3 separate regions of the Homo sapiens genome follow, and all the other regions are linked to region 2. Evidence: fine-mapped expression QTL. A gene starts in region 2. Each other region holds a variant in brackets. All regions are shown on one strand. Distances are between the middles of the regions.

What was found. PIP is the estimated chance that this variant, and not a neighbour inherited with it, causes the effect.
Region 1: its variant is the best candidate, but not a certain one, in a credible set for the expression of VWA8 in whole blood (INTERVAL, PIP 0.73).
Region 3: its variant is the best candidate, but not a certain one, in a credible set for the expression of VWA8 in monocytes after interferon gamma (Fairfax 2014, PIP 0.56).

What each region holds. Positions count from the first base shown.
Region 1 is chr13:41,575,441-41,581,866 of GRCh38, forward strand. It overlaps VWA8 (von Willebrand factor A domain containing 8), which reads right to left. Exons shown (of 45, transcript NM_015058.2): 43 at 300-398. Among named protein-coding and RNA genes, the nearest start is that of MIR5006, 10 kb to the left of the region's middle. The variant C/A (reference allele first, on the strand shown) is at 2,969.
Region 2 is chr13:41,958,810-41,965,235 of GRCh38, forward strand. VWA8 (von Willebrand factor A domain containing 8) reads right to left here and starts at 2,300. Exons shown (of 45, transcript NM_015058.2): 1 at 2,044-2,300. The coding sequence starts at 2,206. VWA8-AS1 (VWA8 antisense RNA 1) reads left to right here and starts at 2,360. Exons shown (of 4, transcript NR_039974.1): 1 at 2,360-3,425. RefSeq lists enhancers at 533-1,033, 1,034-1,534, 1,630-1,769 and a silencer at 1,970-2,379.
Region 3 is chr13:41,984,129-41,990,554 of GRCh38, forward strand. The region is part of intron 2 of LOC105370176 (a long non-coding RNA gene); the gene reads right to left. Among named protein-coding and RNA genes, the nearest start is that of VWA8-AS1, 26 kb to the left of the region's middle. The variant AT/A (reference allele first, on the strand shown) is at 3,146.

The DNA.
Region 1 (6,426 bases), 380 kb before region 2:
CCTTCTATTGCACATGTAGGGGCTGAGAAGAGCCATATAGGACATACAAGGGGGCCCAGGTTGTAGAATCCCAATCTAAATCCAAGTGTCCTAAAAATATGTAGGGGACAAATTTTAAATTTTATATGGTGGAGAAAAGGATTTTAGGCATGATGGGTGTTTTCTCAGTTCAATACTTGAATGTGTGTGAAACAGTCTTTTTCTTTCCTGTGTATCTGCTGCTGCTTCAATGAATCCTTTTAGTCTTTACCTAACCTGATAGAAGCTTTCATAATACAGAGGTAATAAAATATATTTACCTTCAGAATTTCTAGTCTTTGCTTATTGTCCTTGGGGATTTTGTTCATTGGAACCAGACCAATGTTGTAGCCATCTCCAGAGTGTCCAACGATGTCATACTACATGCAAGAGAACCAGAAAGTTATAAACTTTTCTCCACAAAAGAACAGTCATTAGATCTTTAATGTTCAACTCTTTGGACCATTATTGTCCAAAGTTGCTCAACATATGGCCATAAAGAAATGCAGTGAGACAGAAGTGTGTTTAATTCTCTAATCTCACTATGTACATGAGAAACTCTTGTCTACTGAGAAAGGCTAGAGCTGGGAGTCAAGTGCAACCTTTTCACAGAGTCTGGAAAAAAAGTCTGGGGTCTGAGGTAAACTATAATTGGGGTGAGGTAGTTCCCTCCAACTTTGAGTTACACATACTCTTGTGTTGTAGAGCAATGCAGTTATTTCTTTTCATGTATGTTCCTTTTAAAATGGTGAGTTATTTGAAGGTGAGGCCACAGCTTATTTCTCTTTGAATTTCTAGAATCTAAGAGAGTGCCTAGCATGTTTATTGCACAAATGCTGTAAGAGAGTTTGCAATCAAGTTGGGGCAATAAGAAGCTTTTCCCTTGCATGTGGGCTACATTCTCCTACAAATAAGCTGTTTGAAGCTGGAATGCATTTTTCCCCCTCAACAATCATGGGATAAATGGTGGTTAGTCCATGCTAGCTGACAAACAACAATCCATAACATAACTGAAACTGCTGTGTTTTAAATGGAAAGAAACAGAAAAAATTTGGTTGAAATTGTTATGCAAAAATAGGAAGTGAGAAGAAGGGTTTCCTAGGGAAGATGAGTCCCATTATAGATATGCTGAACTTGTGTCCTGGGGGAGAGATGTGGCTAGGGGTGAAGACCTAACAGTTATCCCCAGGAGGGAATAAATGGAGGCCCATATATTATGTCTAAATATGTAAAAGATATACATCAGGCTACCAACTGTTAAATAAAACATGTTCTGTCCTCCCACTTTGATAAAATATACGTTATAATAACCTGGAAAGCCAGGGCCAAATTTCAAATACTTGGGTTCCTGGAAGTTCTGTGCTAGAACATGGTCACATGGACAGTAATGGCCCCTGGCCCATAGCCCATACCCTTCTCTTTTCATAGTTGGCTCTGGCCCACCCCATGAGGTACCTCAAATGCATGTGTGTGGACACCCAGTGCTGACATCCACACTCCATCGCTCCATCATAAACAACAGTTACCCTCTGCCCACCCTCTGAGCACCTTGGGGTGCTCACACAATTGGCCAGTCTGTCCTAGGAAGATGGACTTAGGAAAGAGGCCCACGCAGGATTTGGAAGCAGGCTTGGGGTCATTTGATGAGAATAGTTGGGGATCCCAGGTACCAGGAGCATGATCTAAAAACAGGCTTTAAAGGCCCTTTGGCCCCATAGACACCTCACCTCATGGGAGGGTCATGGTCAGAGGAGGGCCAGAGTGGGGCCATGGGTGGGGGTGAGATGGTGGGAGATTATTCTGTGCCTGGTTTAAATATAAAAGAATAGCGAAGGAAATTTATCAATGCATTAAAAAGGTTGACAGTAAATGATTTCCAATGATGTAACACATTCCATATAAGAAAAAAAAATTATTCTTAGTATAGTTTGCTATCAATAGAGTGAAAAGGTACCAAATAAAAACTGAAACTAAAAGCAGCTGAGCTCAGCTGTTAGAAATTGCTCAGGATAGGAAATTTCTGGCTTCGGCATAGGCTTGACTAAAGTCATCCATGGGTTCAGTGGTAGGATTGGCACAGATGTGGAGAGAGCTTGCATAATCCTTCCATGGAAGCACACTCCAGGGAGGCCCCGACTGATTTGACAACGGTCATGGCAGGAACTGTTTGTAGTCAAGAGGGGAAAGTTCTCCTGAGAAAGTGCCAGGCAGGTTGCTTTCATTATGGGCTGGTGAAGTAATCTGCTAAACAGGATCTTACACATGAGGGAATAAGATCAGTTCCCTGACACGGAACTAGGTTTCTTATATTGGGCTGAGGTAAGAGGGCTATGAATGTGTTTGACTTTTCCCTCCCTTTTAACTGATGGCTAGAGTTCTTTCTAATTAGATGATAGTGAATGAAACTATAGAAATCTTTGATCATATGGTCTGTCACAGGGTCAATGTAACTGGTCAAAGAGCAGTCAACAAATACAGTTTTTAGCTGGTCTTTAGTAAAACAAGATACTGGCTGATTAAAACCTTCAGAAATACTTTAGCAACCATCCATCTATCATTTGATTGTGTGACTGATATATCTATCTACCATTTAAATATATGCCTAGGAGAAAAAAAACATACTATACTTTTCTAGGCAAATGAGACAAAGAAAGGTGGACTGTATGCTTCTTTTTCTTCCTTCTTCCCTCTTCCCTTTCTTTCTTCTTTTTTTCCCTTCCTTTTTCTTTCTCATCTCTTATTTGGGTAAGGAAAGACCAGCCTTTGTCTGTGCCTGGTGAGTACTGCAAAGGCTTGCAAAGACACCTAAGTGACAGGATGGAGCTTATAAAATAGTTTGCAGGCCCTGGTTTCTCATCTTCCAGATGGGTTTGAGGATTATTCTGTGACCAAAGCCAATAAAACGCTTGGGAGGAATCTAAAGTACATCCAAATGTGGACCATTCCCTGG[C/A]GTTACTGCAGATTATATTAAGCTTCCATTACCAGCAATACTCCTCCATCAAAATTATCTAGTATCTGCTATCCAAGGATTCCAACATGGTTTACCAACAGTGATTTGCTAATCCTGAAAATTGTGTGGGTTAATGGAAAAGATGCATACTCTCATTCATTTCCATTTGCTAACTCCTAAATCTGCCATTCACCTGATCTGGTTTCTACGATGATCGTGAAATCCAACTTGACAGGGCCTCGAGCATGCTTCCATGGAGGAGCTACAGGAGTCAATAAACAAGATCCTCACTGTCATTATCAAACCGCCTAACATTTAGATCAGAATTTTTTCTGAGCTCAAAATTTTTATGATCATGATTTCTGCACTTTTCAGAGCATTCCTGAAAACCCTGTGCAGTCTCACATTTAGCATTTAACATAAATATTAAGCCACAGTAGTAAAGAAAAGCCTCAACTGCAGAGGACCAATTTAAATACTTTTTTGCTTTAGAAATCTGTTTAAATGCCCTTTTGCTATATTTTCTTTTGGAAGTGTTGTTCATTTAGAGAAAAGTATAACAAACAAAAACAAATGCTGAAATTTTGGTCAAAGATGTGGTTTATCATCAAATAAGAATGATTTATAATGTTTAGAATGCATAGGACAAAGTGCTATTAGCAATTTTATGAATAAGATTTATGTGTAAATTTCTATTAGGACGGACAACCATTTGCTGGCTTTAGGAGATGCTATGCTTTATTATGCGGCCACATTGTAAGTAGGTACGAGACAATCATCTAAGGCTATTTATTAAAACTACTAGGTGTAAAATTCTCATGTCCTTCTAGAAATATAAATACACCATTCTCATTCTCCTGTGTGCCACTAACTACGGGCTACACAGGATCAGAAGATAAATATGTGATTTAAAAAGTCAAGAGAAATGCCAGCGGAACCCTAGTGTTAGTTACGTAATAACCTATAGCATTAGCTGGCTAACCTTTCTTCAGATCATGTAAGTCAACGTGAAAAGAATAATGTACTGAAAGGTCAAGGATTCTAGGCTCTGACGTTAACAAGCTTTTTGACTTAGAGAAAAATCACTTAACCTCTCTAAACCTTGTTTCTACCTTGTAAACAATGATGGCTTAGAAAGTCTCTAACACTGTATGCTTGTTAATCACTTAACCTCTCTGACAACATGGGGTAATATCTGTCTTACCACCTCCCAGGGTCATTGAAAGGATAGGACAATACACTTACTGACTTTATAGTTTGTTACAGTTTACAAAGGGCTTCCATATATCTCATCTCATTTTGATTTTCTCTACAAGTTTTGGGGTGTTATCCTTATGTCACAAATGCAGAAATTGATTCTTAGAGAGACTAACAGACTTCCTTAAGGGTGTTGGTTAAACCCCAGGTTTTCTGACACTAAATCCATTTTGGTTGTTTTTATTTTTTGATTTTCTTTTGAGACAGGGTCTTGCTCATTGGCCAGACTGGAATGCACTGGTACGATCACAGCTCACTGCAGCCTCAACCTCCTGGGCTCAAGTAATCCTCTCATTTCAGCCTCCTGAGTAGCTGGGACCACAGGCATGCGCCGCCACACCTGGCTAATTTTTGTATTTTTTTTTTTTTTGTAGAGACAGGGTCTTGCTACATTGCACATGCTGGTTTTGAACTCCTGGGCTCAAGCAATAAACCCGCCCTGGCCTCCCAAAGTGCTGGAATTATAGGCATGAACCACTGTGCCCGGCCCAGTGTTTTTACTACAGAGAAATAACTACTTCCCCAGCTACGCTCCCCTCCCATCTCTACTTGTTTTTGAATGGTTGGGTTGGCCAATATTTCTACATCCACAATTGAATCAATTCTGAATTCTTGTTTGAAGGGACTCAGAAAAGTATGTACGACCTCCTTTGGTCCAATCTCCATGTAGCAATAAGAATTTATTCACAGCCTAAACTGATAGGATGACTGATCTCCATTTCTAAACCTGTGAAACATTCTTGAGGTACTGGAAAGAGATTAATTGCAGATACTGAATTAACTTCTTGATAGAAGAAATTTCCCTGGCAGGTGCTGATTTGTGAGTCATATGTTTCCACTTTCTCCTGGGAGTTAACTCAGCCTTTCTGATCAAGGTATCTTTGAGAAAAGTTTGTCTATTATACCTCCCTTGGATGGTGAGGTGCCAAGGGTAGGAGAAGACAGAGTACCTTACATAAATGATACACTTGCTCCTGAATTACAGTTTAAAAAAATCAAATTGAACAGAGATAAAACAGCTATAAGAAACAGGGATGAAACATCAACTAAGAGCCCTGAAGTGGAAGTCAGAAGTGCTGGCTTTGCACTGTAACGGTGTGACCTTGGGCAAAGCATTGAACCTCTTTGAATCTTTGTTTTCTCTTCTGTAAAACAAAAAGGTTGGTGAAAATAATTTCCAAGGCCATTCCTACCCCCCAAATTCTATATAAACTTAATGGTATGTTTAAGAATTGTAATGAGAAAGCCTGCTTCTCTTAGTTTTAGGAACACCTAATGCCTTGTTTTCTTCTGTCAAGGGAGAGTGAGTCATCTATTTTATTTTATTTTATTTTATTTTATTTTATTTTTTTTTGAGACGGAGTCTCGCTGTCGTCCAGGCTGGAGTGCAGTGGCGCAATCTCGGCTCACTGCAGGCTCCGCCCCCTGGAGTTCACGCCATTCTCCTGCCTCAGCCTCCGGAGTAGCTGGGACTACAGGCGCCCGCCACCTCGCCCGGCTAATTTTTTGTATTTTTTTAGTAGAGACGGGGTTTCACCGTGTTACCCAGGATGGTCTCGATCTCCTGACCTCGTGATCCGCCCGCCTCGGCCTCCCAAAGTGCTGGGATTACAGGCGTGAGCCACCGCGCCCGGCCGAGAGTGAGTCATCTAAATCAGAGGGTCAATGGCACCTTTTCCAGAAAGAAAGCCCTCAGAGCCTGTGAGAAATAATAATCCAGTACATTACATAATCCCTAACACAATGGCTTTCTAATTCTTCCTTTCCTTTAAAAATTTGTTAGCAGTGGAACCCTTCCTTCAAATGAAATACTGCACAAAAGCCCAGCTTATGAAACATCCTGCATTATCTATACATGTGAAATTGTTGTAGTTGAATTGGGGATGGAGGGCAATGGGGCACAAAGTGCTGCCTACTCACTGCCCCCCTCCACTGCCAAACATCCTTCAAAGGTTCTTGTTACACTGTTAGAAAACCACTGCCCTAGGATATGGTTTATATGCCTTCACAGAAACAATACGTTTAAGTTTCTTTTTTTTTTTCCAAGTGCAACTTCTGAATAATGAAATAAATCTCTTTTCTGGTCCCACTATTTGAGTGCTTAGTGGAGAAATAGTTACCTAACTTTGGTATTATTGAGTACTTTGAAAAAAAATTAAGCCATTAAGAGCCTTTGAAAAGGAGGTGTATTTCAAGATTAC
Region 2 (6,426 bases):
GTTCTCTGTAATATGTCCATGACTCTCACATTTGAAGCAAAGCCTATACTTTGATTTACTGGCTATAACAAAATTTGAGGACATTTACAACTTATCTACCAATACGTATATAATACAGACTTTAAAAACTCACACCCACATGTGTTTTTACAATCAACATGTATTATCCATGTACAAAGAACAATTGTTTTTTAAAAAGTTCAAGTCAATTCACTCGGCTAAATCTGCCTACCCAGATAGTCTGAACAGTCCTGAATCTAAACAAACTTGGTTTCATGTCTTCTAAAGGCAAGGAAACAGAATAATTCTCAAATAGCTAAAACTGTACATACTAAGAATAAAAAAGCTAACTTTTATTGAGCATTAATATGTGCCACAGATTATATTAATTAATAAATCCTCACAACAACCATAATAGATATATTCTTCTTATCCTTTTACAGTTAAGAAAACTAGGACACAAAGTTAAGTAACCTACCCTCAACGACCCATGGTTAGATAGTGGATAAGTGGATTCCAACCCAAATTGTTTAACTCCAAAACCCAACCTATAGTTTATGCTATACTTCCACCTTTGACCTCTGCCTTCTAGGGCAAAGGAGCAAAAAACAAATAAAGAACACACAAAAAATGTAAAAAACAAATGAATAAACAGCCCAGAAGTGAGAGTAATTGAGAAAAAGCAAAAAAAAAAAAAAAAACAAAAAGTAAAATTTGAAATTGCAACACTATGGTGGGGGACGGGGGTGGTGTATGTCTTCAATGAATAAAACGAAATACGTGGGACCTAAATATGCTTTTTTTTTTTTTTTTTTTGAGATGGAGTCTTGCTCTGTCGCCCAGGCCGGAGTGCAGTGGCTCCGGTCACTCCAAGCTCCGCCTCCCGGGTTCACGCCATTCTTCTGCCTCAGCCTCCGGAGTAGCTGGGATTACTGGCGCCCGCCACCACGCCCGGCTAATTTTTCTGTATTTTCTTTTTAGTAGACACGGGGGTTTCACCGTGTTAGCCAGGATGGTCTCGATCTCCTGACCCCGTGATCCGCCCGCCTCAGCCTCCCAAAGTGCTGGGATTACAGGCGTGAGCCACCGCGCCCGGCCCATATGCTCATTTCTTAGCAAGGAAAACTGGGGGTTGCGGGGAAAATGCAAGAGGACAACGAAACCTACAATTTCATAGTGAAAACCTGTTATTCCAAGCAGCACTGACATTGACAAAATCTTGTCTGGAATCACTTCACCATTCAAGGGTAGCAACAACAGATATCCTTTCCTTAACCATCACAGTAACTCTAACTCCACCAACACACAAGAAAAAGAATTCCTAAAACCAGCTCAAGTAGAGCCAAAAAATACTGAGCTTAGAAATCAAAGCATGTGATTCTAGCATAGTAATTAGTTGTGTGTTCTCCAGCGAATCACTTTTCCCTTCTGGGTTTCAATTACCTCATTTGTAGAGGCAAGTGTTTTAACTAAATTAAGGTGTAACTGTCAGCTCTAAGAATTACGTGAAACTTTAAGGAAAACTCCTGTAAAACTTGGAAAGGCTCGGGGATGCATTTAAAACACCGTGAACTATGGGTTCTTTGGCAAGAATGTTCCCTTCTAAGCCGCCACAAGCCCTGGCTAGAACATGACACAGACCGGCTTCCAGGCCCTTGAGGCTCAGAGAGCAAGGTCAAATCCAGCTTTCAATAATTCCATAGGGCTGAGGCATTAACCTCTACGAGTATTATAACCTAAGTCAGAATTCTGGGGGTAAAGGCAGCGGCAGGGGAAGGAGAAATCACTCTTCTAGGTCATCAGAAACCTTAGTCCAGACCCCTCGGGTTGCAGAATCAGGCACAGAGAGGGCGAGCGCCTTGCCCCCACGTTACACAGCAGTTAGCGCCGAGGTCGGGACTAGAACCTCAATCTTTCAGCTCCCCGCTCGGCAAACGGTCCTTCCAAGCGCAGCGAAGCAACAGAGAGGAGGGGCGGGGGCGCGCGGGGACCCGGCACGGAGCGCAGGGGCACCAGGGAGGACAGGGGCGCACCCCGAGTTACCTGTGTCGGCCCCCGAGCCGGCGTGCAACAGTCTGACCTCCGGCCGCTGCCTGTCGCCACCCGGCCTGCGCTGCACCACCTGCCGCAGGAGCAGCCGCATGCGCCGCGAGGCCGGGCCGCCGTGGCCTCCGGGTGCCCCGAGGAGTAGAAGCCGGGATTGCATGGCGCCGGGGGGGCTGTCGGGGACGGCGAGGGGGCTCGGGGATCGAGCGGCGTCCCGTGCAGGCACCGTGAGGCAGCGCGGAGAAGGGGACAGGAAGCGGCACCTAGCCGAGTCCGCCGGAAACTCCTTCCCCCGCGGCGCGGCCGGCTCAGTAGACTCAGCCCGGCCCTACCCGGCCCTGCATGGCCCAGACGGGCGGAAAGAGCCTGCGGAGCTCCAGCCCAAAGAGCCGGCACCGTCCCGGGACTGCCCGCACCGCGGGGGTGCTCCGAGCTGCGGCGCTGGGCTCTGGCAAGCGCCTCGCAGTCCGTGAGACTGTCTGTTCACCTGGATGCACCAGGCCTTCACCCGCCGTTTCCCTGCGATCCCACAGAATCTCAGGAGTTCAGTAAATGCCAAGGGTTTTAGGAGCATTTGTCGGTGTGACTCTTCAGATGCTTGCCCCAAGTCTTCGTTTCTTAGTTAAAGGCCCAGTAAGTATAGGGAGCTTTCCCTGTATTCGGCTTCAGATTTCGGAAATGGAGAAAACATGCACAAGATGATGGGAACTTTCACAACTGTCTTGATTCATTGTAACCACACTAGTGTTTCCAAACCGTACGTGAAAGCTTTACCCTTTGTCCTTTTGGTGGTGGTTGTTTGTTTCTGTGTTTTATTACCGCTTCCTAAATTCTAAGGAAAAAATTCACATCTTAGTGATAGATGGAAATTGCTTAAATATCAGAAAGGATCCAGATCAAGCACTTTTCTAGTCATGCTGTAATACAAAAGTTATATAAAGATGATTTATGTCTTTAGTAAAGGAAAAAGTAGGACACTGGCTAAGGCTGCCTCCCTCTTGTACATTCCAACATCGGAAATGGTCCTACCACAAAGCAAACTAAGCCTAATGTAATTAGACTGCATCCCCAAAATGTCACAGTGAATTGACTAAGGCAAAATATTTGAGACAAGTTATACAAGCAAACATCAAAAAGAAGGCAGAAGACCTCACTTTCAGCTAAAGACCTTGCTAATTCTAGAGCTGCCACTGTCTAAATACATAGCACCTACCCTGCGCCTGACCCTGTGATGAGTGCTGAGAAGAGAGTGTTAGAGTGGAGACTGTAAAAGTCAAACAAGGCTAGGTAAGGAAGGCTTTGGGCATCCAGCGGAAGAACTTGAGGAATGAAGGCTGAACCAGGCTTCTAACCTAGATGAGGAGACAGTGAAAATAAAGGTAATAAGTAGTTACACAATATATTATGACTTCGTTTCATGTGTATCTTCTCATTTAATCCTCATAGCAACCCTAAGACATAAATTTAGGATGTAAGCTTATAAAATGCTTTTCCTACTTTGAGCACATTGTATGTATCAAGATTTTAATGAATTATCCCATTTCACATAAAAATGCTTTGAGGTACTATTATTATCCTCCGTTTTACAGATGAAGAAACTGAGGCTAGAAGAATTGAATACCTTGGTCAAGATATCTCCATTTAATCTCGCTGGAACTCAGTAGACACCTGAAAGAATGGGAGAACAACCTAAGGCAATTTTGCAAAGTGGTTGATATAAGCACTAAGAGCTCTTGGAGTTAAGACAATGGAGAGATCAACACAAGTTAGAGCATTCAACAACATTTTTTGCCTAGTTTTATTTTTTTTAGAGACAAAGTCTCACTCTGTTGCCCAGGCTGGGGTGCAGCGGCAGTATTATAGCTCATTGCAACCTCGAACTCCTGGGCTCGAGTGATCCTCCTGCTTCAGCCTCCCTAGTAGCTGAGACTACAGGCGTGCACCACTGTGCCTGGCTAATTTTTGTGTTTTTGTTTTCGTAGCAGTGGAGTCTTGTTATGTTGCCCAGGCTGGTCTCAAGCTCCTGGCCTCAAGTGATCCTCCTGCCTCAGCCTCCCAACGACAACATTTATTGAGTAACTGCTGTATAAACAGTACCCTGCTAGATACTGTGAATCAATGGGCTCACATTAGGTATTGATGATAAATATGCAAATAAAGAATTGCAATACAGTGAGACACGTGTCAAGAGATTTAGGTTCAACATACTGTGGAGTGGATTGCTGCACCTGGAGTCTTCACAGAGAAGGTAGTGTTTGAAATGATTCATGTAGGATATATTATACAAGAGTTTGTCAGGCTGAGACAAGTCAAATCTGGCAGACAGATCATGTACAGAGAGAGAGAGAAAGAAACAGCTGAAAGTGCAGGGCATGATTGAGAACCAGAGAGTGATTCAGTGTGTCTAGAGGTCAAGTATATACAACAGTTTGTAAGAATAAGACCAGAAAGAGAATCTGGGGCCATGTTGTATGCCAAGAGAAGGAGTTTGCACATTAACCTCCAGGAAATGGAAAAATGGTGAAGGTTTTTTAGAGTGACAAAGCTACAATGGGGAGGAAAACTTTGAGCCTGAGAAAAGGCAGCACCTGAGCTTAACTTTGAATGCCATTTAGGACTGGATACACAGAGAAGCGGGGTATAGAGCCTAAGTAGAGGCTTGGAGTCCTGACAGAGTTCAGTTACAGGGGCCATGAGACCAGCCAGATGAGGAGGTTAATCTTTCGAAAGTAGTAGAAGGTGTTGGCAGAGCAGGAGGAGAAGGTTACAGAGTGAAGAATCTTGAGTAGCTGGATGAAGTTGGACTTCATCCGATGAGCAAACTGGGCAGCTACTGGACTTTTTGATCGTGTTTTAGGTGGTGACATACTATGAATTGAATTAGGAAGACAGGAAGCATCAAGTGCTAGCTACGTGGCAGTAAAAATAGTCTCTACTTGAAATGATGAACAGTGCTGATGGCAATGAGACTGAATGGGAAAGAATGGACCTTCACAATGTTTTTAAAGAAGAACCAAAGGTGTTTTGTTTTAAAAGATGTTCATCACAATCTGTGTAAAGTCTCTCAAACTCTCACTAAAATATCTGATCACATGCTTATTAAAAAACAAGCTACCAGCCGGGCACAGTGGCTCAAACCTATAATCCCAGCACTTTGGGAGGCTGAGATGGGTGGATCACCTGAGGTCAGGAGTTGAGACCAGCCTGGCCAACATGGCAATACCCCATCTCTACTAAAAATACAAAAATTAGCCAGGCGTGATGGTGGGTGCCTGTAATCCCAGCTACTCGGGAGGCAGGGGCAGGAGAATCGCTTGAACCCGGGAAGCAGAGGTTGCAGTGAGCTGAGATCGCACCAGTGCATTCCAGCCCGGGCAACAGAGTGAGACTCTGTCTCAAAAAAAAAAAAAAAAAGAAAAAAGAAAATCACACTACCAAAAGCTAGTATTGACTGTCAAGCTCTTTCCAGAGTTTGGGAGGAATATTTTTTACATACCACATTAATGTAACTTGATGAAAAATGCAACTAATAATCCTTCCATGCTATGTCTGACTGAAAAAAGGTGGGTGCTCCACTCCTCCCTACTGTCTACCCCAGCTAAGAAATCAAAGGTTCATACCACTGGTTCCCAGACTTTTGTGTGCATCCTAATTACCTGGAGAACTTATTAAAATGCAGATTATAGGGTTTCGTTCCTCCCTGCACCCAGAGATTCTGAGTCAATAGGTCTGAAAGGGCCCAAGAATATTCATCTTTAGTAATACCTATAGGAGATCACCCATGTGCCACACATTTCAGTCATGAAGCTGTACAACTGTTCTTTATAGAGAGGGAGGGAAAAAGGAAAATCACAGCCAGGTGCAGTGGCTCACGCCTGTAATCCCAACACTTTGGGAGGCCGAGGCGGGCGGATCACCTGAGGTCAGGAGTTCGAGACCAGCCTAGCTAACATGGAGAAACCCCATTTCTACTAAAAATACAAAAAATTAGCTGGGTGCGGTGATGTGCACCTGTAATCCCAGCTACTCGGGAGGCTGAGGCAGGAGAATCGCTTGAACTCAGGAGGCAGAGATTGCAGTGACCTGAGATCGTGCCATTGCACTCCAACTTGGGCAACAAGAGTAAAACTCTGTTTCAAAACAAAAAACAAACAAAAAAACAAAAAAAACACAAAAGTCACTGGTTCTTTGGTACTCCAAGACTGACCTCTTATTGCTCTTTTTTCCATTTTTTTGAGACAGGATCTGGCTCTGTCACCCAGGCTGGAGTGCAGTGGCATGATTACAGCTCATTGCAGCCACTACCTCCTGGGCTCAAGCAATTCTCCCACCTCAGCCTCCCTAGTAGCTGGGACTACAGGCATGTACCACCATGCCTAG
Region 3 (6,426 bases), 25 kb after region 2:
TCTTCTGGGTTAGCTGGGTTAGCTGGGAGGAAAGGCTTTGTAGATTGAAGGCAGCCCTCCCAATGTAAAAGGGATTCTTAATTTATACTGCTTGTTAACCATTATTCGGCAGGATTTGTTTCAGAATGTACATCATATATATATAATATATACATAGTATATGTATATCATTACATATATGATATATACATATGTATATATTATATATAAAATATATTTAAATTAGCCAAGTATTAGATGAAGTTTCCTTCACAAAAATTGAATTGCCAAGATTTTTTAGAGCAAATTATATATTTAGCAGTCATTTCTAATGGCACTCACAAAACTAAAGCATTAGAACCATGACACTGATTTTTAGTATTTGTTTTTGTTTATGTTGTGATATATTAAACAAGCGTATAGAAAGTTCCTGGTTTAGTTGTGCCCAGCTTAGCTCATTTCTCTTGCCTGAGCTCTAATGATGCTGCTGTAAAAGTGTCCCTTTTTTGCATCGGCTAAGAATTTTCCTCCTGACTTGGGATCCCTCTCCCTTGTGCTAATGCAGAGCCTCTGCTACCCAGAACGGCACATCTCTTTCACATGTGCTCTTGTTTCTTACCCCTCATCACTCCTGGTCAGTTCCTGCCTCGTTCTAGCAGGGACTCTCTCTACTTGTCACTGTGCCCAAAACTGGTAAGGGAGTGGACTTCCTAATTCTGCAGAATTGTGCTACAGAAAAAAGATTTAATGTCTGCTTTCAAGGTGCTCAGAGTCTAGAGAAATGGAAGAAAGTTACTAAAAATGCTAAGTTAAAGCTATATGCTGAGGGAACGCTGAAGGAGACCTCAACCCAGGCTGAAGATCTAGGAAGGAATCAGTCAGATGGAATGGATGGAGGGCTGGCAAAGAGATGAGGCTCGAAAGGAGATAGGAGCCAAATAAAGGGAATTTAAATTTAATCCCCCCAAATATTGGGTTCCTCAATTAGGAGAGTAACATGATTAGATTTATCTTACTTATAGCATGGAGAATGGATGGGAGGCATAAGGGTACAGGCAGAGAGAAACATTTGGGCTGCAGGTGAGAGATTGTGAGAGCCTGAATCCAGGCAATGGCCATGGGATGGGGGGAATTTAAGAAACTAGGGAGGAATTTAAAGACCAAAACAATATCACATAAGGAATGATGGGGCATATGGCTCAGGGAAGAATAGAAAAGGCATTTGAGAGAAAAGAGGGAGAGAGGATAGAGGGAAATAACAGAGGAAAAAATGGAGAGGAGAGATGGAACTGGAAGAAACGAGGAAAGAGGAAGAGAAAAAAGCAGGGAAATTTTCATTACTGCTCTTTCCACCATGTCCGCCAGCCTGGTTGTGTGCTTGTAAGGCAATTGAGAGGGACTGGGGAAACTAAGAAATGGTGAAAAACAGAAAAATCAAAATTGAAAATGAGAAGTGGGGAAACTTATTCAGCCTTATTTTTCATATCCATCCTCCAAGCCCTTGGTCCCCTCCTCCTTTATGACAGCTTCTGTTTCCATTGTTGGGTCTTTTTTATATTTTAAGTAACCATGTTGAATAGTATTGTGAAGGGAGGTGAATAATCCGTTTACTTAAAAATGTGTTGCTATGCATTATATCTCTAAGTATATTTTATAGTAGAAGAAAAGGTAACTTCTTACAGTTCCAGGTACTTGAACTTTACCTTCACCCAGAAAAGTAAAGTGTCATTATTTCAATGGGAATATGGACTGAGTTCCAAACAAATGTCTTACAATTAACTTTTCGGGAAAAAAATCTGTCTTTGAGCCCAGTACTAACCATATTAAATATATACACTATGAAGAAGAAAATCAGGAAGTGCTTTAAATGCTCTCTTCTTTAAACTTTGGCTTGTTCCTGCTGATTACTCACTATTTGAAAGTACATGATAGTTCTATTTAAAAGAAAAGTGAGAAATTCAGTCAAGAATGTTTTCATACACCCATAAATATTTGGCACTATATGGATAATTTCTTGCATTGACATAGAAAGGGACTCTCAAAGCCCATTTACATCTAATAAGGCATCACTGGATGCAACTAGGTTATGACCCCTTTGAAAAGAAGAGACTGATAAGCATCTTTACTGAGTTTGGCAGACTGCCCTTTGGATTAGCTGTTGATATGCCACATGTGGTACTTCTCAAAACAGAACAACTCATGTTTGAGGAATATATCAGTATTAGAATTTTGTGTAATTGTTTTATGAGGGCTGTAGGCCATGCACCCTCTGTGGGTGGCATTAGGGTTTCCTCTGAATGGCATGGACATTCTCATGGTGAGTCATCGTGGGGAGAGGGAGAGGTCAGTATTGGAGGAAGACTTGAGGATACAAAAATCAGGCCTCAGACTTTCTTCTTTTGGGTCGGGGGTCAGTTTGGCTGAAATGGTGGGGCAAAGTGATGCTGAGGCATGTCTGATGATTTGGAGTGAATACCTAGAGGCATTGAACTGTGTGGCAGACATGGGAATGTGTAGCATTCAGAACTCCAGCTAAGGAAGACTCATGCCCAGCTACGAGGAATATGGTTAGCTGACAACCTCCAACTATTCAGTTCTGCAGGTCCACCTCAGCTTTTGAGTCAAGGTCATGCACTTCCTTCTCTTCTCTAGGTAGCCTTAGCCCATGACTAAGAAAGACTGTGGTCCAAGGGTCTAGCCCTTTCTGCCCAAAGGTGGGCTCCTCTCAAGACAAGCTTTGATCTGGAGTTCCTGCTGGGCAGAAGAGACTTTGTTAGGTCTGCATCTCAGTAAGATGGCTCTCCTAGCCAATCCCAGCTCTTCCCTTTTATTCCCACTGGAGGTGGGATAAGAGGTGGGAATAAGAGGTCTTATTCTCCAGTAAATCTTTTGCACTCTCAACTTCCTACGTCTGCTTCCCTGAGGACCCAACTGATGACACACCCTGCCAAAAGGAGGCAGGCAAGGAGAGAGGTTAGGAGTGGTCACTCCCAGAGGATCCGCCCACCTTGGCCTCCCAAAGTGCTGGGATTACAGGTGTGAGCCACCGCGCCCGGCCTGCGCTCTTTTCTGATTCATGTAACTCTTCTTCTACTATCTGGGCTTTCTCCTCCAAATCAATATTTCCTACAACAAATATTTTCTTACATGTAAGTATTTTTTTAAA[AT/A]TTTTTTTTCCCCTCTGATCAATTTGTAATGAGTACTGCTGCATTTGTCTGTTATTTTTAATTACTTTGCATGATTATGACAACTTTTCTTTCTGACTTCATCTTACTATTTCTATTTTTGTTGTGCATTTTAACATACATGGTGAATCTCCTTCTAAGCCATGGAAATGATCTGTAGTAGCTCACACTCTGTTTTTGGATCTTCTTTTCTTTCTTATTGAGTCCCTTAATTTTTATTTTTTCCTGTCCCCAGATATTTCTTATGCAAAAATGAAAATAAATTTAAAACACTTACTAATTTTTGCTTTTGTTTCAACCAGTCAATGCTTCCCATAAGAATAAAATAGTCAGAAATCCTTACTTTGTATTTTATTTATTTTTTTTTTGAGACAGACTCTCACTCTGTCACCCAGGCTGGAGTGCAATGGTGCGATCTTGGCTCACCGCAACCTCTGCCTCCCAAGTTCAAGCAATTCTCCTGCCTCAGCCTCCCAAGTAGCTGGGATTACAGGTGCCTGCCACTAAGCCCGGCTAATTTTTTTTATTTTTAGTAGAGATGGGGTTTCAACATGTTGGCCAGGCTGGTCTCAAACACCTGACCTCAGGTGATCCACCTGCCTCGGCCTCCCAAAGTGCTGGGATTACACACATGAGCTGCCATGCCCAGCCAAAATTCCTTATTATTCCTTCATCTGGTGTAAATTCTCAGCTGCCCTGAGCAAGTGACTGAGTGGTTATTGCTAAGCCAGCTTTATAGTAGTAAGAATAATTATCCTTGGATTTCTTTTTCATGTTCAATTTTCTCTTGGACTTTATTTCTAGGCTTTGTATATTTTCTAAGGGAAATGAACAATGATTTTACTGGCCTTTTTTTGTGCTTCAAGCTCTTTACATTAAGCTCTGTGTCTGAAGGAATTTTTCTTTTATTCTCTGTACCATGGGCCAGGAAATAGTTTAACCAATGTTTTCTAGAAATTGTATTCTCTGGCTATTATGCTGTGTGAACAATTTAGCAATTTCCTTCTACCTGCCATAACCACAGAAGGAGAATGGAGTAATATTGCTCTATGAAGATATTTGGATCTAACCTCTATAGCTGAAAGAGAAAAATTGAAGTTAAATGGGCAAGATTCATGTTTATTTTTGTTTGAGTTATTTATTAACACATGATAGGAACAGTTGTACTATGAAATGCTTCATTATTAGTTATGTAACATTGTTTTTACTGGGATACTAAAACCTTTATACTTTGTTAGTTTAGAGCAGTATTTCTAGAATGGTTTCTACCAATTTTTTCCCTTGAAATAGTTACTTTTTAATATAACTTAACATGACTATTCAAAATTCTAACAGCTTGATTAAGTGAAAAAAAACTTTGTATATTGACCAACGCTATCTTTTTTGAAAATGTGTAATGTAATAGAAGCATAGAATTTAGACAGAAGGGCCAGGCGTAGTGGCTCATGCCTGTAATCCCAGCTCTTTGGGCGGCGAGGCGGGTGGATCATTTGAGGTCAGGAGTTTGAGACCAGCCTGGCCAACAGGGTAAAACCCCGTCTCTAAAAATACAACAATTAGCCAGGCATGGTGGCGGGTGCCTGTAATCCCAGCTACTCGGGAGGCTGAAGCAGGAGAATTGCTTGAACCTGGGAGGTGGAGGTTGTAGTGAGAAGAGATCATACCACTGCACTCTAGCCTGGGCAACAGAGGGAGACCTCATCTCAAGAAAAAAAAAAAAAAGAATTTAGACAGAAGGAAAATCAGGAGATTGTCTAGTTTAACTTCCTATAGAGTGCAGATTCTCTCCAGCCACATTGTTGAGATATATAATTTGGTTTTTGCATTTAGTTTTTGCTTGAATGCTTCTATTGTAGAGAGCTCTTATGAAAGCTCACTTTCATTAAAAAAAAAAAAAACTCTAAGATTAAGAAAATCACTTAATTTGAATCCAAATCTGCTCTAGAACTTCCATTTGGTACCAGTTTTCCCTTTTGGAGTCACTCATATCATGCCTTCTCTGTTCTGCATGGCAGTGCTTTATATTTAAATATTGAGGTACATATCTCCTTATTTTTCTCCTTTCCAGGTTAAACACTGACACTCTCATCAGCCATTTTTTATGGCTTTCAACTTTTTCTCCACCTCACCTAATTCATGAATGATGATACTCTTAAATGTGATGTGTAAAGTTATACTCAATTCTTGCTTTAAAATATACGTGTAAGAAAGTGAAAAGACAACCAACATGATGGGAGAATATATTTGTAAATCCCATGTCCACTAAGATACTTGCATCCAGAATATAGGAAGAGTTCTTACAACTTAAGGTTAAAAAAAAATCCAATTTAAAAATGGACAAAGAACTTGAATTGACATTTCTCCGAAACAAAAAAAAGACCTAAGGTCAATAAACATGAAAAGACACTCAACATCATTAGTCATTAGGGAAATGTAAATCAAAGCCATATTGAGATACCACTTTATATTAGTAGAATGGCTATAATAAAAAAGATGACAGGCCGGGCGCGGTGGCTCCTGCCTGTAATCCCAGCACTTTGGGAGGACAAGGTGGGAGGATCACCTGAGGTCAGGAGTTTGAGATCAGCCTGCCCAACGTGGCGAAACCCCATCCCTACTAAAAATACAAAAAATTAGCTGGGTGTGGTGGCAGGCGCCTCTAATCCCAGCTACTCAGGAGGCTGAGGCAGGAGAATTGCTTGACCCGGGAGGTGGAGGTTGCAGTGAGCCGAGATCGTGCCACTGTACTCCAGCCTGGGCAACAAGAGTGAAACTCCATCAAAAAAAAAAAAAAAAAAAGACAGTAACAAGTCTTGGCTAGAATGTGGAGAAATTAGAACTTTCTTACATCACTGGTAGAATGCAAAATGGTACAACTACTTTGGAAAAATAGGTTGGCCATTCATCAAAAGGTCCAACACAGCCACCCCATTGACTGGCGAAGACATAGTGGCTGCAGCTCCGAGGAAAGCATTGGGAGAAGGGTGCTTCTTCTCACTTCTATTTGGCAAGTAAAATGTGTCTTTTAAAATCAGTGATCATATGTGAATTCTAGACATAGAAATCTGCTAAAGGAAAAAGGAAAGCTATTATTTAGTGGACTGAAAAACACAGATTTCATTTTATTTCTGGGCAGAAACATTTTTTAAATACTTAACTAAATTCATTTCCATTTTCCAATCTAACTTCTCCTCATCAGCTCCAGTTACCCTCCTGAAGCAGAATAAAGGGTTTTGTGTCCTATGTGTGCTCTCTGGGGAGC